Linked DNA regions of Homo sapiens: region 2 is linked to region 1. Evidence: fine-mapped expression QTL. A gene starts in region 1. The other region holds a variant in brackets. All regions are shown on one strand. Distances are from middle to middle.

Region 1 (8,125 bases):
CCACCAGGGAGCCGATGACCAGCACCCAGAGGACCGCGCACACGGCCGCAGCCTGCCTGGGGGACCGCAGCCCGCGGGCACGCAGCGGGTGCCGCACGGCCACATAGCGGTCCACGGCGATGGCCGTGACCAGGCTGATGCTCATGTACCTGTTGGTCAGGTAGATGCCCTGGGAGAGCTGGCACAGCGGCGTGTCTGAGGTGTCTCGCAGGGAGTGCAGCACGAAGGGCAAGGTGCACAGCAGGCAGAGGTCGGCCACCGCCAGGTTGGTCATGTAGATGCGGGTCTCCGTCCACTGCTGCATGCGGCAGCAGAACACCCAGAGCGCCAGGCTGTTGAGCAGCAGGCCTAGCACCAGCAGGACGCCCAAGTAGGCGTAGAAGCCCAGCTTGATCGCTGGGGGCCAGGTGAGGTCGCTGGAGCCACAGGTGTTGTAGGTGCCATTCATGGTCCTGGGGCAGCACAGGGAGCCGGAGGTCAGCAGAGAGTGAGCAGGGGGAGCAAGGCACTGCCCCCACTCTGCCCACCTCTGGGCAGGGATGTGGGAGGAGGTGAGCCCCGACCCCACACCCACAAACACAAAACTCCTCAAAGAAAGCATGGGTGCCGTAAAGAACTCCAAGTCACCCTTGAGGTCTAACCCCTGGACAGATCCTCTTCCCATCTCCTGAGCTCTTCTCTCCTGGGATCTGCCTGCTGTCATGGGGCAGGAAAGGAGGCAGAAGGAGCTCCACGTTCCCCTCCAGTCCCCAGCCCAGCAAGCCCTACCCTCCAGAGCGCAAATCCTGGACAGGGAGCCCAAAGGGCCACCAGCCTTACCCAGCACACAGCTCTTAGCAGGGAGGGCTCAGAGGCAGCAGCACCTGTCAGCCCAAGGACGGGAAGACCAGGCTCCCGGACAAAGCCCAGGGTGGCCCCTCCACCCCTCCTGGCACCCGGCTGCAGGAGGCACCCACATTTGACTCCACACCTGCATCAGCCCTTCCCCACAGCAGAGTCCAGGACAGCTGGGACTCTGGCCTGCCCCTACCTCCCTGTGAGCCCACCCACCCAGTCCTGAGCTCTGGAGGTCCTGCCTGCATCAGCCTGAGGCCCCATCCCAGTCCCACACCTGGGATCAGGGATTCACCCCTTGAGCTCCCAGGGGCCAGAGCCTGTGACGGCAGCCCTGCCCCTTCAGGCCCAGTCGTGCTGCTCAGGGGCCGCCCAGGGGTGGAGCTGAGTATCCTCCTCTCCGTCACTATCAGGACCACCCACAAAGTCACCCCTCCACTGTCCACGCCAGCCTCTCGCTGTCCCCAACACCCTCCGCGACATAGCCCAGGAAGGCTGAGACCAGCCCCGGCTGGACCTGGGCAGGGTCTGGTGTCCAGGACACGGGCTAGAGTCATCCTGACTCGGCCACCCCTGCAGCTGGGCAAACTTGTTTCCTCATCATAAGGGGTGCTGGTGTCACACGCAGGCAGGTGTGAGACGGAGCTGCTGGTGAGCGCCCAGAGTCCAGGACTCACAGCCACACGTCCCACCACCTGGGTTACTCAGTGGGTCCAGGAAGAACCCGGAGGGGTGAGGGCGGGAGAAGCCTCTCCCCCAACCATCAGGCTGTCCTCTGGGGCATCCTGCAGTGGCTTCCTGCTGGGCTGGTATGGAAGGTGGGAAGGACTCAGCCCACAGCGAAGGGCCTTCCTCCTCCCTCTGCCTCCTCCCTCTGCCCAGAGGAGCACAAAAGGTCCCCCAAATCAGGAGGGGAGAGCGCCCAAACCCCGTGACTGCAGCTGCTGGGGACCATTAGTGCTGGGACGCATTTCCCCACGGTGGTCCCCGGGAACTCCAGGTCCCCAGTCCATGAGGGATGGAGGGCACAGGTTTCAGACAGAAACGAAACATTCTGCCCCCTGGCTTCATTCTGTCTCCTTAGATCCCACCTCTGGTGAAGTACAGCAGATATTTGCTGACTTCCAAGTTTCAGGAGCCCTTCCCCCGAGTGCAAAGTGCTGCACGCCCAGTGGTCTCTCTCCTCCCTTCTTGAGGGTCCTGCTTGCTTTCTCTCTGATTCATGAGCAACACTTCACCCTCGTTCCAGGGACTTTTGGAGGGACCCTGAGCCAGGCCAGGCTCCGAGGACATCCCCAGAACCCACTGGAACCAATCGCTGGGATCTTCCCTTCCTGTTGGGCCTATACTCCTGTGGCAGCCCCCGCTGGGGGCCAGGAGATCCCAGAACCTGCTCAGAATCTACACCTCAGAGGCACCTGAGCTGGGCAGGCACTGTGCGTTGGGGAGGGCTCCGTGCGACTGGCCTCCTACTCTCCCCACCTGAGTACTTGAATCCACCAGAAGTCCAGGGCCAGCCTTGGGCGGTGTGCAGACCTGGAGGGGGAGGGGGTCTGCACAGCTAGAGGGCGATTCTTTTGCTGCCCCACCTTGAGTAGAGGCAGCCTGGGACCCTGCCTCGTGGGAGGTGAGGACCCGAGGGCTCGTGTGCCTAGACCCCTTCCCATTGCCCCAGCTTCCCCCATCGCTCCCCATGGCTGCCAAGGGGCTCTCAGGTCACACATACCCAGGGCTGCAACTTTCATACTAGCCTCGGTGTGGCCCAGTATTTTGTGGGGGAATGTTTAACTGCAGGCAGGCACGGTGGCTCATGCCTGTAATCCCAACACTTTGGGAGGCTGAGACAGGAGGATGACTTGAGGCCAGAAGTTTAAGAACAACCTGGGCATCACAGGGAGACCCCGTCTCTACAAAAAAAAAAAAAAAAAAAAAAAAAAAGACAGAAAATTAGCTGGGCTGGTGATGCGTGCTACTCGGGAGGCTGAGGCAGGAAGACGGCTTGAGCCCAGGAGGTTGAGGCTGAAGTGAGCTATGATCCCACCACTGCACTCCAGCCTTAGGAGACAGAGTGAAACCCCATCTCTAAGAAGAAGAAAAAAACTCTAACTACAACATTTAAATTTTCCTGTTTATAATAAAACAAACACTGAACTATTAGGGAGAAAAATGCAAATGTTGCAAGAGTTTCGAGGTGCACGTAGGCTTCGAAGAAGTGCCCTGTTCATGGGTCCTTGTCTCGCCCGTGGAGTGCCTCCCAGAAAAGTTCAGGAAATCAAGGCCCAGGCTTTAGCCCAGATGGCATGGGGCCCCTGGGAGCTAACATGGCCAGCACAGATGCCCACCTACTGCCCCAGTCCCGCACAGGAATCTGTGTCCAGGCCGTGGACCGTAGCTGGCCTCCCGCCTCAGCTCCTCAGGCCTGTCTTCCTCGACAGACACCAGCACCATCAGCCTCAGGGAGCTCCCGCTGCCGGGGACCGTGGGGATGGGGCCCTTCCACTTCCTGCCCAGGAGGCTTTGGGGATTGGAGCCAGCAGCACGCCTCTGAGGCCCCGCTTCCCCTTCTGATGACAAGGTCACCCTCGGCTTCTGCACACAAAAGCAGAAAAGTGCCCTTTGATTCTGCACTGAGTGATCCAGGAGAGAAACCTGGCCATAGACGGGCGATCCAGCCACACCAGAGCCCCTCCCCAGCCCTTCCCCCTGTCTGGACCCGGGACCCGCCCAGACCCCAGAGTGCCTGGCTGGCCTGGGATTGAGACCACAGGCCCCAACCACTGCTGAAGACGTGGGGGCACGCAGTGAGGTGCAGATCCCTGTGGCCCAGGCACCAGAGTCCCCCGTACCTGTGACCCCACTGGGCCTGGGCCCCACACAGCACACCACACCCCAGGACCCAGGATGGGGCTGTGAGTGACACGAGTTCACCAAAGTAGCTGCTCACCTCGGGGCCACAGCACGGGGTATTCTTCATTCTTGTTTTTAAATGTCACATCCCACACTCCAACAAGCTGCTACCCAGACACAGGCTCCAAGTCTTCATCAGCCTCAGCCACCCCTGAGACCCCAACAGCCTCAGCCCACCTGAGACCCCAACACAGCCTCACCTCACTGAGACTCCCCATCACAGCCTCACCCCACTCTGAGACCCCATCACAGCCTCACCCCACTCTGAGACCCCATCAGAGCCTCACCCCACTCTGAGACCCCGTCACAGCCTCACCCCACTCTGAGACCCCGTCACAGCCTCACCCCGCTCTGAGACCCCATCACAGCCTCACCCCGCTCTGAGACCCCCATCACAGCCTCACCCCACTCTGAGACCCCCATCACAGCCTCACCCCACTCTGAGACCCCGTCACAGCCTCACCCCGCTCTGAGACCCCATCACAGCCTCACCCCGCTCTGAGACCCCCATCACAGCCTCACCCCGCTCTGAGACCCCCATCACAGCCTCACCCCGCTCTGAGACCCCGTCACAGCCTCACCCCACTCTGAGACCCCCATCACAGCCTCACCCCACTCTGAGACCCCATCACAGCCTCACCCCACTCTGAGACCCCATCACAGCCTCACCCTGCTCTGAGAACCCATCACAGCCTCACCCTGCTCTGAGAACCCATCACAGCCTCACCCCACTCTGAGACCCCATCAGAGCCTCACCCCACTCTGAGACCCCCATCACAGCCTCACCCCACTCTGAGACACCCATCACAGCCTCACCCCACTCTGAGACACCCATCACAGCCTCACCCCACTCTGAGACCCCATCACAGCCTCACCCTGCTCTGAGACCCCCATCACAGCCTCACCCCGCTCTGAGACCCTGTCACAGCCTCACCTCGCTCTGAGAACCCCCGTCACAGCCTCACCCCACTCTGAGACCCCATCATAGCCTCACCCTGCTCTGAGACCCCATCACAGCCTCACCCCACTCTGAGACCCCCACCATGCCCCTGCCCCGCTGGGAGGCCCCTAGGGCAGTGGGCGGCACTGACCTGCAGGCAGCTTTGGCCTCCCGGGTGGAGTGTGTGACCCCCGCTGCCAAAGCCTGCACAGTGGCTGTCTGAGAAGGGCTGGGGGAAGTGAAGCTGGGGTGAGCCACCCCTCAGGGCTGGTCCCTGACTCTGCCCCTCCTTAAGGTGGGGGGGCGGGCGGCTGACTGACGGCAGCAGGTCAGGGGTAACAGGAGTTCCCCACTGCTCCTGCACCAGCCCCAGCTAGAGGGCGTGGGGGATTTCTGGGAGGGAAGTGGGGTGCCGGCTGCCTGTGCTGACACCTCTGAAGAGCCAGCATCCTTGCTGAGGGCACACATTTGTTCTGGAAACAGCGTGAGAGACAGACAGCAAAACCAGAGACGCTCCAGCCCCGCCCACGGAGCCTTCCTCCTCCCCAGCCCACTTCTGCCCTGTCATCTCGGAAACCTTCCCAGGGCCCAGCCCTCCCAGGGTCTGCGGTCAGCTCGCCCTCCCCAGCGCCTCATGCCCAGCCCCAAGACAGGGTGCAGCACGCACACTCATCCTGGTTCATGCAGACACGCTCCGTGGGCGCCTTCCAATACACACACACACGCTGGCACACATGCACACACACATGCACACGCCAATGCACACAGGTGAGAGGCACACGCAGGCAGGCTGGCTCCTCCCCTGCTTCCCCCCGACTTGGCCACCGGCCCCTCCTCCAAGCCCACCCCCTCAGAAGCCTACCCAGACCACCCCTATCTGGTCTAGAATATTCTCCCTGGCCCCCAACTCCTCAGCGGACATCTTCCTTCTGAGCTCATGGTGGGGGAGCCCGTAGGCCCAGGCTGCGCCCCCATGGTGCAGAGCACCCCCTTCCTGGGCCCTGTCCACCCTGAGGGCAGGAGCCTCGTCTCCTCAACGTGGGCCCCACAGCCCCTGACCACAGCCTCTCCCTCCTCAACGGCTGGGATAGGCTGGGGAGAGCTTCAGTTTCACCCCTCCCCACTTTACAGCGGTGGAAACGGACGCCCAGGGAAGGGAAGCGCTTGGCCCAGCGTCACACAGGTGGTGGCAGGTCTGAGACCAGTGCCTGGGCCTCCTGAGCCAGACCAGGGCTCTCTACCCAGAGGCACGTGAGGAAGCCCTGGCTGGGCATTGGTCCTTCTCTGCTGTCATCCCGGGCCTGGTTCCTGTCCCTTTCTTCCTGCTTCCTCCTGCTGTCCTTCCTGCCCTTCCTCCTGCTTCCCCGGCTGTCCCTCCAGGCCCAGTCCCCAGTGTGCGCCCTTGGGTTCCCTGCCCAGTCTCCATGGGCCATGATGTTCATTGGAGAGGGGCCTCATCCTCGGGCAGGAGGCTCAGATTTGGGATTTCATCCATCCCTCACTCTGGCCACAGGGTCTGGCCTCTGGGGTCAGCAGAAGGCACGGCACCTGATCAGTCCAAGCCCGGCCGCCGTCAAGCAGGGACTGGAGGTGCAGGGCACGGCATCTCCCAGGAGTGCTCCTTCCACCTCTGGCAGATCAGATGGTGCCCCAAGCAGGCCTACCCAGCCCACCAGAGCCAGGGCCCTGCAGAGCTCCCCCACCCCCCCCACCACCAGGCCAGCCATGAACTCCACCGTGCCCCCTCTGCTGGGCATCACTCCTCCCCAGCAGTGGCCTGGGGCACCCCGTCCCCACCAGGCCTGGCCTCCCTGACGTGGCCTGGCACCTGTGCTCCTCACACACTGGAAGGGAAGCCCCACTGGGCAGGGCCACATGGTCCCAGCGGATTCTTCTGGGCTGTGTGGACTTGGGGAAGAAACTGGACATTTAGAGACTCTGACTGTCTCTGGGAAGGGCCCCTTGCCACCAGGTTCCACCTGTGTACAGGAAACGCTGTCCCCAGCCCACCCCCTACCTCTCTCCATCTGCCCCTTGGCTGTCTCCGCAGGCACTTCAGGGCAGTCCCACCCAGCCTGGAGCCTGGGCCCTCGTGCTCTGCCCCCTCCCACTCAGGCAGGCCTTGCCCGGGCCCCTCCAGAGCGCTGTTTCTCTCCTAGCTCCCCGCTCACCCCCAGGGCCCCTCTCTCCCCAAAGCTGCACCCTCACGACCTGTTTGCACCCTCACGACCTGTTTGCGCCCTCACGACCTGTTTGCACCCTCACGACCTGTTTGCGCCCTCACGACCTGTTTGCGCCCTCACGATCTGTTTGCGCCCTCACGACCTGTTTGCGCCCTCACGACCTGTTTGCGCCCTCACGACCTGTTTGCGCCCTCACGACCTGTTTGCGCCCTCACGACCTGTTTGCGCCCTCATGACCTGTTTCCAGCCCTTCACCCTGTTTGATTTTATCACAGAACTTATTTTTTAAGTAACCCTTTCTGCGCACTGGGCTTGTGCTTGTGGGACTCTATCTGCTTCCTGCCCTGTCGGGGCCCTGGCACAGAGCCCGGCCTCTGTGAAGCTCGACGACCGCTCACCCACAGCGACTCCGGCCGCGGGGCTGCGAGTGCCGGGGACATATCAGGTGCTCAGTCGTCGTCGGCGCCCGGCTCAGGCACGGTCGCCTGGGGTCCTCTGCTGCTGCTCAGGCCCTTCTTCGAGGACACCCGGAGTCCCCAGGTTCGAGAGGCCAGATGGCAGGTTTCCAGTCCAGGCCAGGCCTGTTCTCTCCCTGCTGGGCAGCTTCAGACCACCTGGCCCTCTGCGGAGAACTGGCAGCCAGGGTCCTGCTGTGGGCACGGGGGCACTGCCCGGGGCCCTCCGCCCCCAGCCTCTGCTCCTGGGCAGCTTCCTCTCCGAGGCTGCCCCCTCACCCCCAAGGTTAGCCCCCTGCAGCAGCGCCAGCCCCTCCCACTTCACCCCGCTGGGCTGTATGTGTGACGCGAGGAGCTCCGAACAGGATTCCTTCCTGCCCCTCCTCCTGCTTCTCCAGCTAGAGCTGCCGGACGCCACCCCTGCAGCCCTATCTAGGGGAGCCTCTGCAGCAAGCTTGTCCAACACTCGGGCTGCGGGCTTTGAATGTGGCCCAACACAAATTTGTAAACTTTCTTAAAACATTATGAGATTTACGCAGAGACCTTTTTTTGCTCATCAGCTATCGTGAGTGTTAGTGTATTTCATGTTTGGCCCAAGGCAATTCTTCTTATTCCAATGCGGCCCGGGGAAGCCAAAAGATTGGACAGCCCTGCTTTGAAGGGAAGTCTGTGAGGCGATGTCAGGGAAGCAGGAGCCTGGGAGAGCCAGAGAAAAGCCGTTTACGTTCAGCTCCACCTTGAGACCAATGAGGCACATACCTGCCAGCCACAGCCCATGGTCATACGATGTTTACAGCTAAAGCAGC
Region 2 (8,125 bases), 21 kb after region 1:
ACTCAGGGATCAAAGAAGTAATCAAGGAGACATAAGAAAATACTTTGAACTAAGTGATGATAAAAATGCAACTTTCCGGTCTTTGTGAGATAAGGTTAGTGTGATGCTTAGAGGAAAATCTGTAGCTCTCAGTGTTCATGTTAGGAAAGAAGAAAGGTCTAAAATCATTACCTAAGATTCCACTTTGAGAATCTAGAAAACAACAACACCAAGAACAAATGAAACCCAAGTAAGCAGAAGAAATAAGAAAGAGTGAAAATTTGATGTACTAGCAGAAAAAAACGAAAATCAATAAAATGGAGATTGGTTATTTGAAAAGAAAAAAAAATTGAGAAAGCTCTGGCTAGATTGATCAAAGAAAAAAAATCCACAAATTACTAATATCAGGAATAAAAGATGAGACATCCCTTCAGACCCTACAGACATCAGAAGAATAATACAAGAATATTAGTAAGAACATCATGAAATTACATTTGACATCTTGATGAAATGGAAAAACATCTACTGAAAGTCACAACTTGCCAAAATTTACACAAGAAAAATAAAATGTAACAAGCTTATATCTATTAAAGTTGTTGAATTCATAATTTGAAGCCTTTCTACAAAGAAAATACCTCACCCAGATGGTGTTACTGATGAATTCCATCAAACACTTAAGAATAAAATAATACCAATCTTAACCACATCAGAAAAAAGGAGAAACACTGGCCAGCTCATTTTCTAAGTCAAGTTTTACCCTGTACCAAAACTGGACAAAGATATTACAAGAAAAGAAAACTACAGGCCAATATCATGCATAAACATAGACATAAAATCCTTAATAAAATATTAGCAAATCAAATCCAGCAATATATAAAACAAATAACACATCATGAAAAAGTATGCAAGAAATAAAAGGTTTATTTTAGCATTAGAACATCAATTAATAGAATAAATGGTAAAATGTATATATTTATCTCAATGGATGCAGAAAAATATTTGACAAAATGCAACATCCATGAATAATAGAAACTCTCGGCAAACTAGAAAGAGAAGAGAACTTCCTCAACGTGATAAAGATCACCTATAGATAAACTATAGGAAACTTCAAGCTGGGCAATGGTAAAAGACCAAACTTTCTCACTATACTCAGAAACAAACGAAGTGGCTCTCACATTTCTATTAAAAACGGTATTGGAGGTCCCAGCCAGAGGAAATAAGGCAAGGGAAAAAAGCAGATAGAAAAGGAAGAAGTAAAATTACCTATGGTCACATGTGACATAATCATGCATGTAGAAAATTCAGCTTGGCACAGTAGCTCAGGCCTGTAATCCCAACATGTGGGGAGGCTGAAGTGAGAAGATCGCTTGAAGATAGGAGTTCAAGACCAGCCCGAGCAACATAGCAAGACCCAATCTCTACAAAACATATAAAAATTAGCCAGGCATGATGGTGCACACCTGTAGTCCTGGCTACTTGGGAAGCTGAGGTGGGAGGATCACTTGAGCCCAGGAGTTTGAGACTACAGTGAGTTAAGATTGCATCACTGTACTCCAGCCTGGGCAACAGAGTGAGCCCCTGTCTCAATTTAAAAACAAAAAAGAGAAGAAGAAGAAGAAAGAAGAAAGAAGAGGAGGAGGAGGAGGAGGAAGAGAAGGAGGAGAAAGAAGAAAAAGAAAATCCTAAGGCAGAAGAAAAAGAAGAGGAGGAAGGCGGGGAGTCGGGAGAAAAAGAAAATCCTAAGGCATTTACCAGAAAAGAACAAAAGAAGCAAAAAACACTATGAACTAATAAATGCATTATCAAGGTTACAGGATACAAGATTAATATACCAAAAAATGCACTTCTATATACTAGCAAAAAACAATTGGAAAATAAAACTAAAGATACAATACCATTTACAAGCATTGGAAAACAAAGTACCTAGGCACAAGTGGGAAACGTATGCTTGAAGTTACAAAATATTGCTGGGAGAAATTAAAGAAGATCCAAATAAATGGACAGGGTTCAGCACAGTGGCCCCAGCCTATAATCCCAGCACTCCGGGAGGCCAAGGTGGGTGGATTGTTGGAGTCCAGGCGTTTGAGACTAGCCTGGGCAACATAGCGAAACCCTGTTTCTACTAAAAAACAAAAATGCAAAAAATTAGCCAGGTGTGGTGATCTGTGCTTGTAGTCCCAGCTACTCGGGAGGCTAAGGTGGGAGAATCACCTGAGCCCAGGAGGTTGAGGCTGCAGTGAGCTGAAATCCTGCCACTGGACTTCAGCCTGGACAAACAGAGTGAGATCCTGTCTCAAAAAAAAAAAAAATTTTTAAAAAATTAAAAATAAGTAAATGGATGGGTATACCACGTTCATAGATTGAAATATGTCAGTCCTCCTCATAGTCATCTATGTGATCAATCCAATCAAGCATTAAGCACCATGCCCCAATGGTTTTGCTTCCTGGGTATATGTCAACACTAGCCTATTCTCCTCTCCATCACCTCCCACCTAACCCAGGACACCACCTTAATGTCTGCAACAACTTTTTAGTTGGTCCTCTACTTCCAATTCATCCTCGAGACTTCAGCCAGAGAAAGATTTCAAACATATGTATGTTAGGCCCTGCTTTAAACTATGTAGTGGCTCCCAATTGCCCAGGAGATAAGACTCAGGCTCCTTAAACAACACTTAAGGCCCCTGCTTACATCTCCAGCCTCAGCTCTTGCCATATTCTCCAAGCCCACTCCCCGCACTGCAGGCACAGAGAGCTTCTTTCAATTCCCTGAGGGTGCCCAGCCCCTTTCCTGCCCTTGGCTGACCCTCAGCTGGTCAAGGAATACCCCCCCTGCCACTCTCACCTGTTCTTCTATGAACCCCCTGTCTGAGTCAATGGATTACCTTTGTGCAGACGGTCCTCCCTAATGGATCATGCATGCCATGGGGGCAGGGGTGAAGGATGTCACGGCCGCATCCACAGCTATCAGCAGTGTGCCTGCCACCCCACACATGTGCTTAGGAGGCCTCAGGATGGAGGGACAGTGGGCAGCAAGATGGTGGAAAGTGATGCGTCCACGCTTTTGATGTCCTCAGAGGGCTTGGAGAAGGAGCAATGAGCCCATGTCAGCTGCAACACAGAGACAGGCACACAATGCCACAGTGCCCGATGTCACGTCCATCCAGGCCCCAGCCCAAGCCTGGCTGCTCCTCCCCTGGCAGATTCATAAAAGGACTGGGTGTCCCAGGCAGCTAAGATGGGCCCAGCCTGAGCCTTGACCTGGGTAAGGGACACTGCATATGCCCGACTAAACCTACTAAACCTGGTGCCATGTTCCCTGGGATCCCTGAGTGAGTGTTGTGGTCCCAGCCCAGATCTGAGGCAGTGCTGTCTATGTGGACACTGGCTATACCTGCTGGGGACTAGAGAGGAATGGCCGGGTTTGGGGGGCAGCACTAACCAGATGGCCTGCAAGCTATGGCCAGAGCCCTGCAGCCATGGTCTGAGCTCCCCAGGATGCTACAGAGAGCCGAGAGCTCCGGAGACTCCCAGGTCAGCCTGCCTGCCAAAGCCTTTCCTCCAAAGCAGAAAAGACCCTTCCCCTGATGAAGCAGCCATGTGCAGGGCTTCACGTTGGGATCAAAAGGCCCCAAATTATCCCCAGGAATAAAATGATTCTTCCACTAGTTTCAAAAGGCAGCAAAACTAGCTTAAGTCTGGCAAAAATTAGGTGAAAACAAACAAACAAAAAAAGCAAAACCAAATGAAGACTCCAAGGGACAGCGAGCAAGGCGCAACCATGAAGAAAGCACGAGCCCAAAGTCCAGGTCTGAACACCTTGGCCCCAGCCTGGCCGGCCGCATCCTGTGTCCTGCCCGGGCAGCCCTGCCCCGACCAGCCCTCTCCCTGACTACCGCTCTCAGGACACAGGATCTCGACACTCACCCCAGAAGCTCTGCTGCCCCCAAGGCTGGCCCAAGCCTGGAGGACTGTGAAAGAGAAGACGGCAGTATCAGGACCGGGTGGGACACGGCTCCCACCAAGGAGTCACCAACTGCTGTGCCTGGAGCTGGAAGTGAC[T/G]AAAGGAAGGAACCCAGGCAGGTGGTGTGGGACAAAGTCCACAGGAAAGGCCAGGAAGGAGGTGCTCTCATGGGACACACCCAGTCCTGCCCGTCCGGATCTGCCAGGGCCACCCTTTGTCCCTTCCCACCATGGTGGGGAGACGGTCTTCAGCCCACATGCCCCACTCTGCAGGCCCACAGTACCGCCAGGGACCCCACAGCCCTGGACCCCATGGAAAGGCCAGGCCCTGCCTTCAAGCATTCCGGAGAGTTCTGGGTGCCTTGCCAGGGCTGGCGTTGGGGAGACAGGATTTTATTTTTCAGGGTGGCTCTCATTTGCTAGGACACAGGCCACTGGGGACCCAGCATTTGTGTAAGAGATGGGCCCTTCTATAGATGACACATTTATGTCCCCGAAATTCACATACTGAAGTCCTCATCCCCAAGGTGAGGAATGAAAAGGTGGGGACCTCTGGTAGGTGATGAGGTCATGAAGGCAGAGGCGTCACGAATGGGATGAGTGCCCACATAAAACGGGCCCCAGGGAGTTCCTTTGCCCTTCCACCACATCAGGACACAGAGAGAAGGTGCTGTCTCTGGACCAGGAAGCAGGTCCTCACCAGGCACCAGGTCTTCCAGTGCCTCAATCTTGGACTTGCAGCCTCCAGAACAAAGAGCAACGCATTTCCACTGTTTACGAGCTGCCCAGGCTATGGTGCTTTGTTACAGCAGCCCAAAGGAACTCAAAGAGGGGCCCCACCAAGGAACTCAGGCAGGTGCAATGCCAGAAGAGCCAGTAAATCTTACAGGGGTGAGGAAACTCTTTGGCTTTCTCTATTTTCACGTAAACCAGCAGCCTTGCGGCAAAACGAGTGGTCAATAGGAGACTGAGTGACTGCTTGGCAGACAGCCAAGAGAGGCCGGAGAGGGCAGGAAGTGCTGGACAGTGGCTCCCAGCTCCAGAGCACCCCTAGAGGCCCCTGGGTGACACAGGCAGGGGAGCCTCACGGAGATCCAGGAGCAGGCATGCTGGAGGTGGTGCTGATTACAAGCTTGCTGATGGTCAGGCAGCGCTATCAGCTCTGAGGCTGAGAGGGGACTGAGGGTTTCTAGATGGCCTTCACCCTCAAGCAGAGCTGTGCGAGGAGCCGATCCAGGCTGGCTGCAGCCGCTGCAGAGTCCACCCCAGCAGACGCTGAGAGAGAAATGTCACTGGGTGGCCTGTGGCCACTGGCCCAGAAAGCAGGAAAAGTCCCACAGTGCCTCACCCCTGCTTGCCTTCCTTCCCTCCTGACACCCCAGGTGTCTCCCCCAAGCCGCCAGGCCAAGGGCGCTTCTCCCCGCAGGTGTTCCCAGGGTTATGGTCTACACAGCCACTGCTGAGAGGGTGCAGCCAGCAAGGAGTAAATACGCTGGCCAGCAGGTGTGAGCCGGGGCGGTAGCCCCAAGGGAAGGCCCATGGCTGGGCTGTGGGCAGCGTTCTTGGGGGCAGCCTTGTCCAGGGATGCCATGGGGTAGTCTGCCTGGGGAGGCTGAGCCAGGCAGGGCACAAAGACCAGGCGTTTCAGCCAGGTGGGGGCACCCCGGCCACCGACACTCCAGGCTTCTCCCTCACCAACCCCACCTCTTCCACCTTCCCTCCGAAATACCTTGCACCCAAATTCTATGTCTGCCTCTGCTTCTGGAGAATCCAACCCCCATTGGAGAAGAGAGTCACTAATTTGGGATTTGGAACTGGGTCACTCACGGCCCACGGGCAATGAGGACCCATCACTGGTCAGGGGAGATAGCTGGCGCCTGGCACAAGGTGGTCGTCCTGTCCAGTCCAGTTGTGAAACTGGTTCCAGTGTCCAGTGGGAAAGTTGGGGAAGGGGGTCTGCTGGGGGCCCCAGCTGCTGTTTGATGAATGAACAGACACGAGGGCCTCCAAGGAGGAAGCAAATAAGGCGCAGGTGGCTGAGGCCTCACTGAGGTGCCCTGGCTGGAGTTTGGAGAAGTTGGGCGGGGCGCAGCACTCCCAGCTCCTGATCAACACCTAGCCAAGGCCAAGGCCCCATCTGGAGAAACCAGGACCGTGGGCAGGGAGGAGGCAGTGCGTGGTGCCTGAAGGTTCCACTCTCCAGCCTCTTAGGAAGCTTCTGAGCCTGCACAGACGCGGCCCACCCCTCGCTCCACCCCCGTCAGGCCCTGGCCCCCCTTGGGTGCTAGGGCTCTGACCGAGTGAAGTGTCAGCAACATCCAGTGACCAGGGAGTGGGCTGCGGGCCCGGCCAGCTCGGGGCACAGGAGGGGGCTGCAGGCCCAGCCAGCTGGGGACGGGAGGCGGGAGCACTGGTAGGACTGGGTGCTGAGGCGCCTGATAGGGAAGCTGGAGACCTAACAGCAGTGTCCCGAGACACAGGTTTGACACCCTGGCAAGGCCCCTGGAGGTGGAGCAAACCTGGAGGTTCCTAGCGGCACAGGCAACACTTCCACTTTTGCTGGGCAGGGTAGAGATGCCACAACTGCTGTGGCTGGTGGAGGGTAGGCGTAGGCGTGTGTGGTGTGAGCTGCCAAGCACTGGTTCCCTGGGAAGACCAAGGTCACACCGCTCACCTGTGCCATGCTGGTTAATAGGGAGTGGCAGCTGTGCCGCAGGAGGCTGGCAGGAGTGGCGGCGGTGCCCCAGGAGCCTGGCGGGAGTGGCGGCGGTGCCCCAGGAGCCTGGAGGGAGTGGGCGGCGGTGCCCCAGGAGCCTGGCGGGAGTGGCCGGCGGTGCCCCAGGAGCCTGGCGGGAGTGGTGGCGGTGCCCCAGGAGCCTGGCGGGAGTGGCAGCGGTGCCACAGGAAGCTGGTGGCAGGAACCACCATCACTGGGTTTGGCTCGCCGGGGGCGGAGGGCATTAGACCTCTAAACAGCAGAGGCCAGGAGACAATCATGAACACGGCTGAAGGGCGCCAAGGGGCCTGCCTGCAGGGCTTACGGAATGGCAGCAGAGCAAGGCAGGGCTGCCAGCGAGGGCAGCGCTCAGGTGGAGCCGGCAGAGGGGTCCAGGAGGGCTGAGGGTGGTCACTCCGATAGAGCCCCAGTTGGGCCCACACTGCCCGAGTCGGTTTTCAGCCCAGGTATCTGCTGACTGAAGAGGTGGCCAGGCCTGCAAGATGAAGGACACTCCCCACATCAGCAAGTGTGCATGACAAGGACCTCCCCGGGGACTATGTGCACCAGGAAGAGAATATCCAGGCATCTGGGAGCCACTGAGCACACAGGCCCCAAGCTGATGCTGGTCCCCAAGAGTCACCAGGGCTCCATGACAGTGGGACACATCACAGGCAGTTAATAATGGAGTCCTGCCCAGGACCAGCTCACATGAGCCCACAGGGCCTACAGACCCACCCGGGGCCATGTCCCGGTCTCTGAGCCTGTGACTGGGATTGACACCTGGGGAGCGACCGATATCTCTGCTGCATCCTTGGGGTAGAGATGGCCGTGGGAAGGCCAAGAGGGACACTGGAAGGCCAAGACTGTCCCCTCCTGCCCGGGTCCCAGAGCAGCCGTGGCATGCGGAGAGAGGGTGGTGGCCCTGCTCTCTCCATTTGGTTCAGTGTGGCCCCGTGGGATGGGATTCCTGGAGGGCCACGTGGCGAGTGCACACACAGCCGAGGGGCAGCCCAGTGCAGCAGGTCCTGGAGGTCCAGGTACCCAGGGTTGGCCATCAACTGGACGAATACGCCACGGAAGATCAGAAGCTGCTCACATTTATATGAAATTTGTATGGAATGGACAAAGGCATTTGCTGTTTCTCCTGGGGCCTCTGCCGGAATACAGGACAGAGACCCCAGCTGGCCGGACACCCTGAAGAGCACCGCACTGATCCATGACCTTGGCAACAGGATGCTGATGGTGTCAGAGCAGGAGGCAGCCAGGGACAAACAACACCAGGCCGGGGCCTTCTGCACCAGAAATGTTTAGGTTGGCTGGGGGTTAGAGCCCTGCCAGACATCCCCTCCAACTGCATCTGGAACCTCCCATCAGAAGGAAGCACAAGGCCTCAGGGCTCTCCGCAGGCTTCGGAGGGAGCGTTTTCCACACCCAGGAACATGGTTCCAGCTGGTAGACCAAATGGCC

The links.
Region 2: its variant is fine-mapped to the expression of GPR35 in kidney cortex (GTEx, PIP 0.91).

The regions. Positions count from the first base shown.
Region 1 is chr2:240,622,276-240,630,400 of GRCh38, reverse strand. It overlaps GPR35 (G protein-coupled receptor 35), which reads right to left and starts at 4,921. Exons shown (of 2, transcript NM_005301.5): 1 at 4,833-4,921; 2 at 1-452. The coding sequence starts at 448. RefSeq lists a silencer at 1-289 and enhancers at 4,461-4,967, 5,575-5,724.
Region 2 is chr2:240,601,349-240,609,473 of GRCh38, reverse strand. It overlaps a transcript of GPR35 not described here. Among named protein-coding and RNA genes, the nearest start is that of CAPN10, 19 kb to the right of the region's middle. The variant T/G (reference allele first, on the strand shown) is at 4,039.